Regions from separate parts of the Homo sapiens genome. Here region 1 is linked to region 2. A link means that fine-mapping ties the variant in region 2 to the plasma level of a protein whose gene starts in the linked region. Region 2 holds a variant in brackets. A gene starts in the other region. All regions are shown on their forward strands.

Region 1 (5,000 bases), not on the chromosome of region 2:
GATCTCAGTGACGCTGAGCCCACGCTTTGTGGTGGACAGGGTGGGTGTAGGAATTCAGTTGAAGTGTTGAGAGGACAAAAGGACCCTGAGGGAGCAAGAGGAGATGATGGCCCCTAGCTCCACAGCTCCTAACAAAGGCTCTCTCTGGGACCACACTTGAGATTCTGCACCCTCCTTTTGATTAGGCTGGTTCTTGAGCCCTGGCTAAGCCAGCCTGAGCAAAGATCCTGCGAAGTCATCCCTCCCACCTTGATATCTGATCAAGTTCCTCATCCCCACCTTTGATGGGGACTTTGATGTATAAGTCCTTGGCCTGCTTTTAGCAAGAATCCCCCTACCTTGATGTCTTCTCTTAGTAATCCCACTGATCCTCTCTGTTTTCTTTGCCGTATTCAGTGTTAAGCACAGTAAGTCTTTCCTACTGAAATAGCCATGGTCCTAATCATAATAATCTTGAATTAGGTCTTACATTTTAACACAGGTCAGGATAGTTTTTCTTTAACTCTCTCAACTATGACCCTTGGTTGTGTCCACTCCCTTTGAGTGGGTGTGGAAAGCATGTAGACCGTAGGGAGGGTGGGATGGGAAAGGCTGTGGGAACTGGGGCTCCCAGGACAGACTCAAAGGTCCCAGAGCCCCTGAAGGCGTTATGGAGATATGAGTGTCTTCCATTTATTCAGCTGTGACTTGGCGGAAAGGACACCAGACCCACAGTCTAGGAAGTATAAGAAAATCTTATTATTTATTTATTTATTTATTTGAGATGGAGTCTCACTCTGTCGCCCAGGCTGGAGTGCAGTGGTGCGATCTCGGCTCACTGCAAGCTCCGCCTCCCAGGTTCACGCCATTCTCCTGAGTAGCTGGGACTACAGGCGTCCGCCACCACGCCCGGCTAATTTTTTGTATTTTTAGTAGAGACGAGGTTTCACTGTGATAGCCAGGATGGTCTCAATCTCCTGACCTCGTGATCCGCCCACCTCGGCCTCCCAAAGTGCTAGGATTACAGGCATGAGCCACCTCGCCCGGCTGAAAATCTTATTATTGATAAAACCATTAAGCCTTCCCCATAGATCAGACCCCAAGGAACACTGATAATTTATTCAGACTAAAACATCCTTTCTATATCATTTGCCTGATACATTTCTATTTCCTTAGTGGAGTCAGAAGAATTAGGCTTCAGATACATAAAAGAGGCCCCAAACCTCTTTCCTCATCCTGACCTGCCCTGGTGAAATTCTCTGGCAGGGCTTGTCAAGCATGTGGTCTTGGAGCCAGCTCAGTCTTGCTTTGATAGTCTTAACTTTTTTATTATTATTCTAGAGGTAATTCTATGCCAGGTTTATAATCTGACCTCTCCTATCAGGATAAATTCCATCCAACACTGTGGAATTAGCTTATTCACTGAAAAAACACTATTTAAATGCCAAGTGATGAGCAATATGGTACCCTTGGCACAGACTTTTTCAGCTCCTGGAGCAAGTTCCTGACCTTGTAAATTGAGATGCTCAACCTTTATCACTTGAAAGGAATGGGAGAGGCATTGGTAGGGCCTGCCTGTCACAGTCAGAGTTGCAAGGGTGCTTGGGAATCACATTAGCATTTTTGAGGACTTGAGTCACTCTCAGACTCTTTATAAATACAGCTTGACTCAGCCACTGTATGACTGACTCCCCGGGGACATGAGGTGGATACTGTTCATTGGGGCCCTTATTGGGTCCAGCATCTGTGGCCAAGAAAAATTTTTTGGGTAAGTTCCTTTTGGACTTATTATTTGGTTATTTCAGAAATATGGGAGCCAAATGGAACTGAAAATGAATGGCTGATAATAGCTCACATGGAGGAAGAAGACCTGGGCTCTTGTTCCAGCTTTGCCCCTGTGTCATCCTGGACAAGTCCACTCTCTTCTCTGAGACCCCATTTCATCTGTGAAATCAGGACTAGATGATCATTGCAGTCTCTCCCCAGCTCCCTCATCTCCTGCCAGTTCTTTTTCTGCCTAGTTCTTACTTATAAGGTCAGTTCCAGGCATCTACTTTCTTACTCCTACCTTATTAATTACTAAGAGTTACTGGTTACTAAGAGCTACGTTATTAATTACTAAGAGTTACTGGTTACCAGAAATGGTTTGTTTCCAATTTCCGCCATGCATAAAGGGAAACCCTGGGTCTCAAGCTTGTTGGTTTCACTTCTTTGTTAATGGCGAAGGCTTTGCAGAGCTGGTGCCTTCTCTTGATCTGCAGTTTAATGCTCTACCCCTGAGCTACACCCTCTTCTGAGCTGGTGCTTTCTTACTGGCTTCTGGGACGTGGAGATTTCACAGGTCTTGCCTAGACACAGCTATGAAAATGACATGCAGAGACACATGCCTGAACACCGTGTGTGTGTGCGCGTGTGTGTGTGCACACACACACGTGCTCAACACGCTCCATGCAGAATACTTTGAGGTTTGCAGGGGAGAGGACATTTGGGTGGTAGGAGAGATAAAAGGGATACCATGGTGCCCTGTTAGAAGACTGAATTATAATAACTCATTACTGCATAATACTTTACCATTTGCAAAGAGCTTTCATGTACATTATCTTTTTGATCACACAACAACTTTGCCAGGCAGGGGTGTTATTTTCTTCCACTTAAACATGAAAAAAATCAGCCTTAGAATGTTAAGGAACGCGCTCAAGGCCACTTAGCTGGGAAGCAGGGGAGCTGGAACTCTGAACGTAAAACTCGTACCCTTTTGCTATAACACAAGTTCATCTCCAAATAAAATCCTATATCTCTTGGATCTGTCTCTTAGTTTTCTTTCTATTTTACTATCTGGCTAATGAGACTTTGGGGTTGTTTTTTGAGGTAATTACTTATATGAGATTGACTAAGTTTTATGATGATGACTTCTGTTCACACCTGTGTCTCTGTTGCCAAATAGCTCAGAGGGGTTAGGAGTGGCAGGTGGCCAGGGAAGATTTTCCCACAGGCGGCTCAGCAGTAGGTGTGTAGTGACTAGACTTGCTGCCGTGTGGGCTGACGCATGGAACTGTCAGGCTCCCACTGCAGCTATTCATGTGGCTGAAAAATCTCTATTTCGCAAGATACAGACCTCTCTTGCAATGTGGTGGGCACCTGGGCTGCGACAGCTGGGCCAGGCCCTAGAATGCTCTCTGCAGGAATTTTGCACAGAAAAAGCTGTGTGCCTGAGCTGACTGCAGATGGTTTGAACTGATAGTGTCATTCTCATCCCCAAATCCATTCTCACGCCATAGTAGGAAACCTAGCAAAGGTAGTGGAATTCTTCCTGGGCTCTCTAGAGGTGTCCCAGACACCCAGCTTTTAGAGCAAGGGGAACATTTAGAGCAAGGGGAAGCTGGCCTCTGAGCATTCAAGTGGTTGGGAAGCCAGGCTCTGGATTGGCTGCTGAAGATGAGGATGATGGTTTCTCCCCACCACCCACCACCCATTCCCCTCCCTTCCATCTGCCTCACCTATCTCCCCAGTCTCTCTTGCTCTACTGGAGTCTTCTGCCCTGGTCTTCAGAGATCTTCAGGATGGGACAATGGCCAGGATGCCTAGAGGCACCAGGCAGGCAGAGAACAGGAACCAGTTGCAGAGCTGGTTACAGCATCAACAGTAGCTGGCAGGCATCTAAGAGTTCTATGAAACCATCTCTTAATATTCTTTGTGGTGGCTGCTAAGCCTGGCTAGGGAGGCAGATGAGAAAGGCACAAAGGACGGGCCACTTGGCTGTCAGCATGGTGAAAGGGGAGGGATAGATGCTCAGTCACCAAAGTGGGTATTGACTGTCCAAAGCACAGACTCCTGTGAGGGTGAGGGAGTGGGAGTGCCAGCCATTGCAATGGCAGCAGCTGGACGCCCTGTCTATTGGAGAGGATCAAGTTAAGAGGAGCTGTGAGAACACCTGTGTGGAGCAGGAGGGGCAGACATGGCCACCTGTGAATCCCAACACGTCCCCCTCCCAGGCCAATTTCCATCTTCAGAAAGAGCTCAAGGTCTTTGAGTGAATTTCTGGATAGTGGAGATAGGATGTGCTCCACCATCTTGAGCCTCATGAACTGACGAGGGCATTTTTCAAATACAGACAAGGACAGTGAGGGCAAGAAAAAGGCTGCCCTTCGCATTGCACCCCGCAATGTCCTCCCTCCTTTCAGGTGTTGCTGTGCTTCTGTTCATAAGGATAATGCTACCGCTGGGTGCAGTGGCTCACACCTGTAATCCCAGCACTTTGGGAGGCTGAGGCAGGTGGATCACCTGAGGTCGGGAGTTCGAGACCAGCCTGACCAACATAGAGAAACCCCGCCTCTACTAAAAATACAAAATTAGCTGGGCGTGGAGGTGCATGCCTGCAATCCCAGCTACTTGGGAGGCTGAGGCAGGAGAATCACTTGAACCCCGGAGGCGGAGATTGCAGTGAGCTGAGATCGTGCTATTGCACTCCAGCCTGGGCAAGGCAACAAGAGCAAAAACTCCATCTGAAAAAAAAGGATAATGCTACCCACTACCACAACCGCCAATGTTCAGCACTATCTGAAGACTGTTAGGACTTTGCTTCCTCTGGTCAGGAAAAGCTTCATGGGTGATGTGAGTTGGTCCTAAAGATTAGATGGGACTAGATGGGCCTGACAGATGAGAAAAAGGATGGATTGCAGGCAGTGGGAACAGCGTGTACAAAAGCATACAAAAGTACGCGGTGAGTTTGGGCTGGGTCCGAGATGGGGCAGAAGGGAGAGGTGAAGAAGAGACAGATGGAACGGGCTTCACTCGGCACCCGCTCTTCTGCCCTGCCGCTTTGCATGCTACAGATATTTTGTTGACCTCTGTAGCTTGGCTGATTAGAGCAGGATGAAATGGGTTTGTGGATTTAATCATCCTCAGGGCCAGTCAGAGACACGGTGTCCCATTGTCCTGGGACTGCGCCCAGGAATGTCTACAAGTTCTGTTGTGAAGTCACCACTTTGGAAAAACTAAAACGCATGTGTTGGGTGAATGCG
Region 2 (5,524 bases):
TCTGGGCTAGGTGAAGAAGGACAAAGTCTCAGCCCTGGGAACCTTAGAACCACCCACCCAGTACATGCGACTTTAGGGGAAAAAATGAAACTTGAAAACACACCCATATATATATATATATATATATATATTTTTTTTTTTTTTTGAGACAAGGTCTCGCTCTGTCGCCCAGGCTGGAGCACAGTGGTGCGATCCCAGCTCACTGCAGCCTTGACCTCATAGGGTCAAGTGATCCTCCTGCCTCAGCGTCTTGAGTAGCTGGGACCACGGGTGCACACCACCAAACCTGGCTTATTTGCATTTTTAATTTTTTTTGTAGAGATGGGGTCTCACCACATTGCCCAGAGTCCTCTGAAACTCCTGGGCTCAAGCCATCCACCTGCCTCAGCCTTCCAAAGTACTGCGATTACAGGCATAGTTGTTTTAAATACTGGATACACTTAAAAAGGCCCGAAGACGTTGGGCCGAATGGCTCATGCCTATAATCCCAGCACTTTGGAAGGCTGAGGCGGGTGGATTGCTTGAACTCAGGAGTTTGAGACCAGCCTCGGCAACATAGTGAGACCCCCCATCTCTCCCCCGCAAAAAAATAATTAGCCTGGCGTGGTGATAGGGGCCTGTAGTCCCAGCTACTCAGGAGGCTGAGGTAGGAGGATCATTGAGGATCTTGGGAGGTGGAGGTTGCAGCGAGCCGAGATCACACCACTGCACTCCAGCCTGGGTGACAGAGCCAGATCACGTCTCAAATAAAATAAAATAAAAAGCTCAAAGAATAAATTACTTGCACATACACTCATATTTATTCTCTTCTTTCTAGATTTTTCAGCTGGGACTTTCTGGAGCTGTTTTTCTAAGCTGACTTTCTTGTGTGTTTGGTTCCCCTTTGGTTGGTGCCCTGATCCCACCCTCGGTGGGCCCACAGGTTCCCCCAGTCCCTGCTCACCCAATGTCCTGTGTTTGCTCTGACGCCGACATTGGAGGAGGAGGACGAGCGGCAGGACAAAGGCCACTGAGACCCCGGTTACAACCCCCAGGTATCTTCCCAGACCTTGCGCGTGATGACGTCGGGAATGAGGATGACATCGCTGATGTGAGCACCTACTGTGTGCAGGCGCGTGCTGGGTCTTCATGAGCTCTAACCCTCACAGCAGTCGTGCAACGTGGGATTGCCAACCCCCCAACCCATTTCACAGATGCACAAACTGAGGCTCAGAGGGGGGAATCGCCTGCCCCAGGCCCCCCAGCCTGGAAGAAGCAGGTCTGGGAGGGGAACCTGGGACCTTGTGTTTTCCCCAGCTGTCCTCCTGCTGCCCCACCAGGTGGACACCTGCTTCCTGCTCTGGGTCTTCTCATCTGACAGCAGGGGCCTGTCTTAGTGTCTCCATCTGGGGCTGTGTCCTCCTTACAACCCTCCCTTCCCCAGCACAGCAGGGCCTGGGGGAGGGAGTGGGCTGTACAGGACGGACCCTGCATTGCTCTCACCCCCAGCCCAGCCAGGTCCATCTCCTACTCTGCCAATCCCTGACCTTCCCATGCAGAGCCTTTGACCACAGACTGAAGGGCTGCACTGTCGGCTTCTCGGCTTCTGAGGTTTTGGTACTCGGACTAGCTTCCTTGCTCCTCAGCTTACAGACAGTCTATTGTGGGACCTCACCTTGTGATCGTGTGGATCAATACTCCTTAATAAACTCCCCTTTATATATACATCTATCCTGTTAGTTCTGCCCCTCTAGAGAACCCTGACTAATACATGTTTCTGAAATACGCAGCCATAGAAGGAAATGAGAAATGAAACTTCCTGACACAGGCAGGAAACCTCAGGAAGCAGCGAGGTCAGAGCTGAGTTGGCTTCTGGTGACTTGCAATGTCAGGGAATCACTAAAAGGGAGGTTTCCGCCTCTATATGAGACAGAGGAGAACCCCAGGGCCCTCACAGTCAGGGAGGGGTTGGGGTTTTGGGTGAAAGTGGGAAGTTGTGGCTCCTCGTCCCCTGTGTTTGTGGATGGCACTGGGGTATCTCTGCTCATTGACTCAGGTTTATGGTCAGCCCTGAGCCTCCCCCTCTGTGTGTGTGAAATAGATTCATTGTAGAGTTGTCAGACATGAGGTTCACACTGGACCCTCCCCTGCTGGTTACAGGCCTGAGCAGACTCACAAGACCCGGGCAGGTGGTGCCGTCCTCCTCTTTTCAAGCCTAACGCCCAGTGCAGCCCTGGTAGAAACCCTCTCTGGCAGATGAGGCACTGGGAGATGAGTGTCCAAGAATGAGAAGAAAGAGGAATCATCCTAATGATAAAAAGTGCTATGACTGGCTGCCTGCGATGGCTCACGCCTATTTTCCCAGCGCTCTGGGAGGCCGAGGTGGGCAGATCGCTGGAGCCCAGGAGTTCGAGACCAGCCTGGGCAACATGGTGAAACCCCATCTCTACTAAAAAGACAAAAATGAACTGGGTGTGGTGGTGCACACCTGTAGTTCCAGCTACTTAGGAGCCTGAGGTCGAAGATCGCTTGAGTCTGGCAGGCGGAGGTTGCAGTGAACTGGGGTGGTGCGCCACTGCACTTTAGCCTGGGTGACAGAGCAAGA[A/C]CCTGTCTCAAAAACAAACACAGGCTGGGCGTGGTGGCTCACGCCTGTAATCCCAGCACTTTGGGAGGCCGAGGCAGGCAGATCATGAGGTCAAGAGATCGAGACCATCCTGGCCACACGGTGAAACCCCATCTCTACTAAAAATACAAAAAAAAAAAAAAAAAAAGATTAGCTGGTTGTGGTGGCGGGCACCTGTAGTCCCAGCTACTCGGGAGGCTAAGGTAGGAGAGTTGCTTGAACTCAGGAGACAGAGGTTGCAGTGAGCTGAGATCACGCCACTGCACTCTAGCCTGGGTGACAGAGTGAGACTCCGTCTCAAAAAATAAATAAATAAATAAATAAAAACAAAAAACAAACCAAAAAATCAAACACAAAGTGCTATGGTTGACAATCCACACTCACTAATGAGGATTATCATGGTCAAAAGGAGTACTAGGAATGTGTGAGACCCATCTTAGGTTAAACATGTTTAAATATTTGAGAAATACAGAGGACATTGAATTTCTGAGGCAGGATTATATGATTTTTTTTTCTACAGCAGAATGAATATTATATAAAATAATTAGAAGACATAGAAAAATCAGATTTAATGAACACAATCAAAATACTCATTCCTTCGAGGACAAGACACAGTGAAGCACCAATTATGAAATTAGAAAACAAAACAGAATTTTTTTTAGAGTGTAGCATAGAAACTTTATAAATTGCAATTTAAAGTACTTGGGAGAATAGAATGAGGAGGGGGAATGTCCTATCTATTGTAGGCGTCAGAAAGAAGGAAGAGAAAACGATGTCTAGCAATAGCCCAAGAGGTGAGTAGCTGAACATTTTATAGAGATGAGGAGAGACTAACTAAGGACTAGGGCGCATCCCTTTAAAATTGAAATGTATGGGCTGGACGTGGTGGCTCACGCCTGTAAGCCCAGCACTTTGGGAGGCTGAGGCGGGCGGATCACCTGAGGTCGGGAGTTTGAGACCAGCCTGACCAACATGGAGAAACCCTGTCTCTACTAAAAATACAAAAATTAGCCGGGCGTGGTGGCAGGTGCCTGTAGTCCCAGTTACTCGGGAGACTGAGGCAGGAGAATCGCTTGAACCCGGGAGGCAGAGGTTGCAGTGAGCCGAGATCACTCCACTGTACTCCAGCCTGGTGATAGAGCGAGACTCCGTCTCAAAAAACAAAACAAAACAAAACAAAAACCCTCACACAAAAACCAAGACAAATCCCCTTGACACAAGTTTATCTGTCTAACAAACCTGCACATGTATCCCTGAACTTAAAAGTGAAAAAAATAAAGGCAATATGTGTCAGATTTGTGGTGGTGTCTGCTGTTTCACCCCCATATGGAAATGTGTGCCTGAACCCCGCTTTTTTCCTTGCTTATTGTGGCTAGGATTTGTGAATGTAATTCACATTCTCAAGAATGAGCTTTTTTGGCTTCATCGAGTTTTCACGTAGCCCTCATTAGTAACTCCTCTTGTTATTTTTGTCCCCTTCCTCACACCTTCATTTGGAATAATTTGTTGTTCTTTTTCTAAATTCTTTCTGTCATTGCCAAGGTCATTAATTACGTAGGTTTTATTCTTTTCTAATTCATTCGCTCATTTGTAGTTTTCCGATTTCATCATTTAATGTGTAATATTTACATTATCATTCCAAATTTATACCATGCTCTAATTTCTGTTTCAGTTTTCTCAGCTCATTGATTTATTGAGAAGTCTGTGGCTTCATTTCAAAAATGCAAGGATATTAGTCATCTTTGACTGCAGAATCTAGTGAGTCCCAGAGTTCCCAGGATGTCCTGGTGGTCTTTGTTAGGGGTCCAGGCTGGCTGGGGTTCATTGGTGTCCACTGGGGGCAGCTCCTGTGCCTTCTGGAGTCTCTGAGTCTCCTTCTGTTGAGTATGAGATCTGGGTCCCCCGTGGGCTAGTGGATGGCCAGGGGGGCGTAGATGCTGGGTTCAGCTGGAGGTTCCCTTTCCTGGGATGGAGGAGGCTCAGTTGCCTCCCGTCTGAGGGTCAAGCTGTGCAGCTGGGCGTAGGTCACATCCTGGGGGGCTTCAGATGCAGCAGCCTGCAGCGGGGGAGAGTGAGAGGGAAGGAACGTGGTGGGGGTGGGGGAGGCCTGGGGGCCTGGAGAGGAAAGGACTCTCTCAGTGTCCATCTGTCTGTCCTCTTCTGCCTGTCTGTCCTTTGTGTCCAGGAATTCCCCAGACAGTGGGGAAGGAGGAGAGGCCATTTCTCTCCTAGGTCTGGAGTGTTTCACCGGGGCATACGTCACTGCCTGGGGGTCTTCATCGTGTGGGCTCTGCTGGAGAGAGACAGTGGTGGGGGGTGTCCTTGAGTCCCCCTGACCTCCTGGAGTCAATTTTCCTCACTGTTCCCGGGGTGATCCGATTACATCCCTTTCCTGATGGAATCTCAGGGACGCCCTAAGGCCGTGGAGGGTCTGGCCGCTCCCTCCCTGTGGTTCTGGCCTCTGCTCCTCACTCTGACCTTGCCCATTTGGCTGCAGCCTCACGGGCCTTCCCGCAAGAGCTCGCTGCTGCCTCGGGGCCTTTGCACGGCTGTTTCCTCTGCCTGCAGGGGCTCGTCCATCAGAGGATCGTGTGCCCCACTCTGTCCAGGCTTCTCAGATGACAGCTGAGCAGACAGCCCTCCCCTTCCATTCAGACTGGCCCCACTGCCCCACACTCTCTGCCCTTTCCCTGGTTTATGTTCCTTACAGCACGTTGCACTCCTGGACACGATGCATTTATTTGCATTTTGTCTCCCACCATGAGGTGAGCTCAGGAGGCGGGGGCGGCTTTGCTCCCTGCTGTGTCTGCAGCTCCCATGGGGAGCCCCATCCACAGTGAGCTCCCTGGGAACACTCGCTGGTTGAATGAATGAAGGGGAGCCTGGGGGACCGGGTCGGTTCATTTATTCCTCATCCTCCTG

Alleles and levels. Positions count from the first base shown, and alleles are read on the strand shown. Strength reflects both the effect of a copy and how common the allele is.
As copies of C replace A in region 2, the plasma level of the protein whose gene starts at base 1,660 in region 1 goes down (strong association).

What was found. PIP is the chance, under the fine-mapping model, that this variant and not a neighbour inherited with it causes the effect. Protein levels are from antibody-based Olink assays in UK Biobank. Linkage for the fine-mapping came from a reference panel and not from the study's own genotypes, which makes the PIPs less certain.
Region 1: CPA4 starts here. The variant in region 2 is fine-mapped to the plasma level of the CPA4 protein (UK Biobank, PIP above 0.99).

The regions. Positions count from the first base shown.
Region 1 is chr7:130,291,502-130,296,501 of GRCh38, forward strand. CPA4 (carboxypeptidase A4) reads left to right here and starts at 1,660. Exons shown (of 11, transcript NM_016352.4): 1 at 1,660-1,747. The coding sequence starts at 1,680. RefSeq lists an enhancer at 2,065-2,154.
Region 2 is chr19:54,246,275-54,251,798 of GRCh38, forward strand. LILRB5 (leukocyte immunoglobulin like receptor B5) reads right to left here. Exons shown (of 13, transcript NM_001081442.3): 13 at 3,147-4,658. The coding sequence ends at 4,512. LOC107987463 (a long non-coding RNA gene) reads right to left here and starts at 1,672. Exons shown (of 3, transcript XR_007067341.1): 1 at 944-1,672; 2 at 1-6. RefSeq lists an enhancer at 5,220-5,524. The variant A/C (reference allele first, on the strand shown) is at 2,585.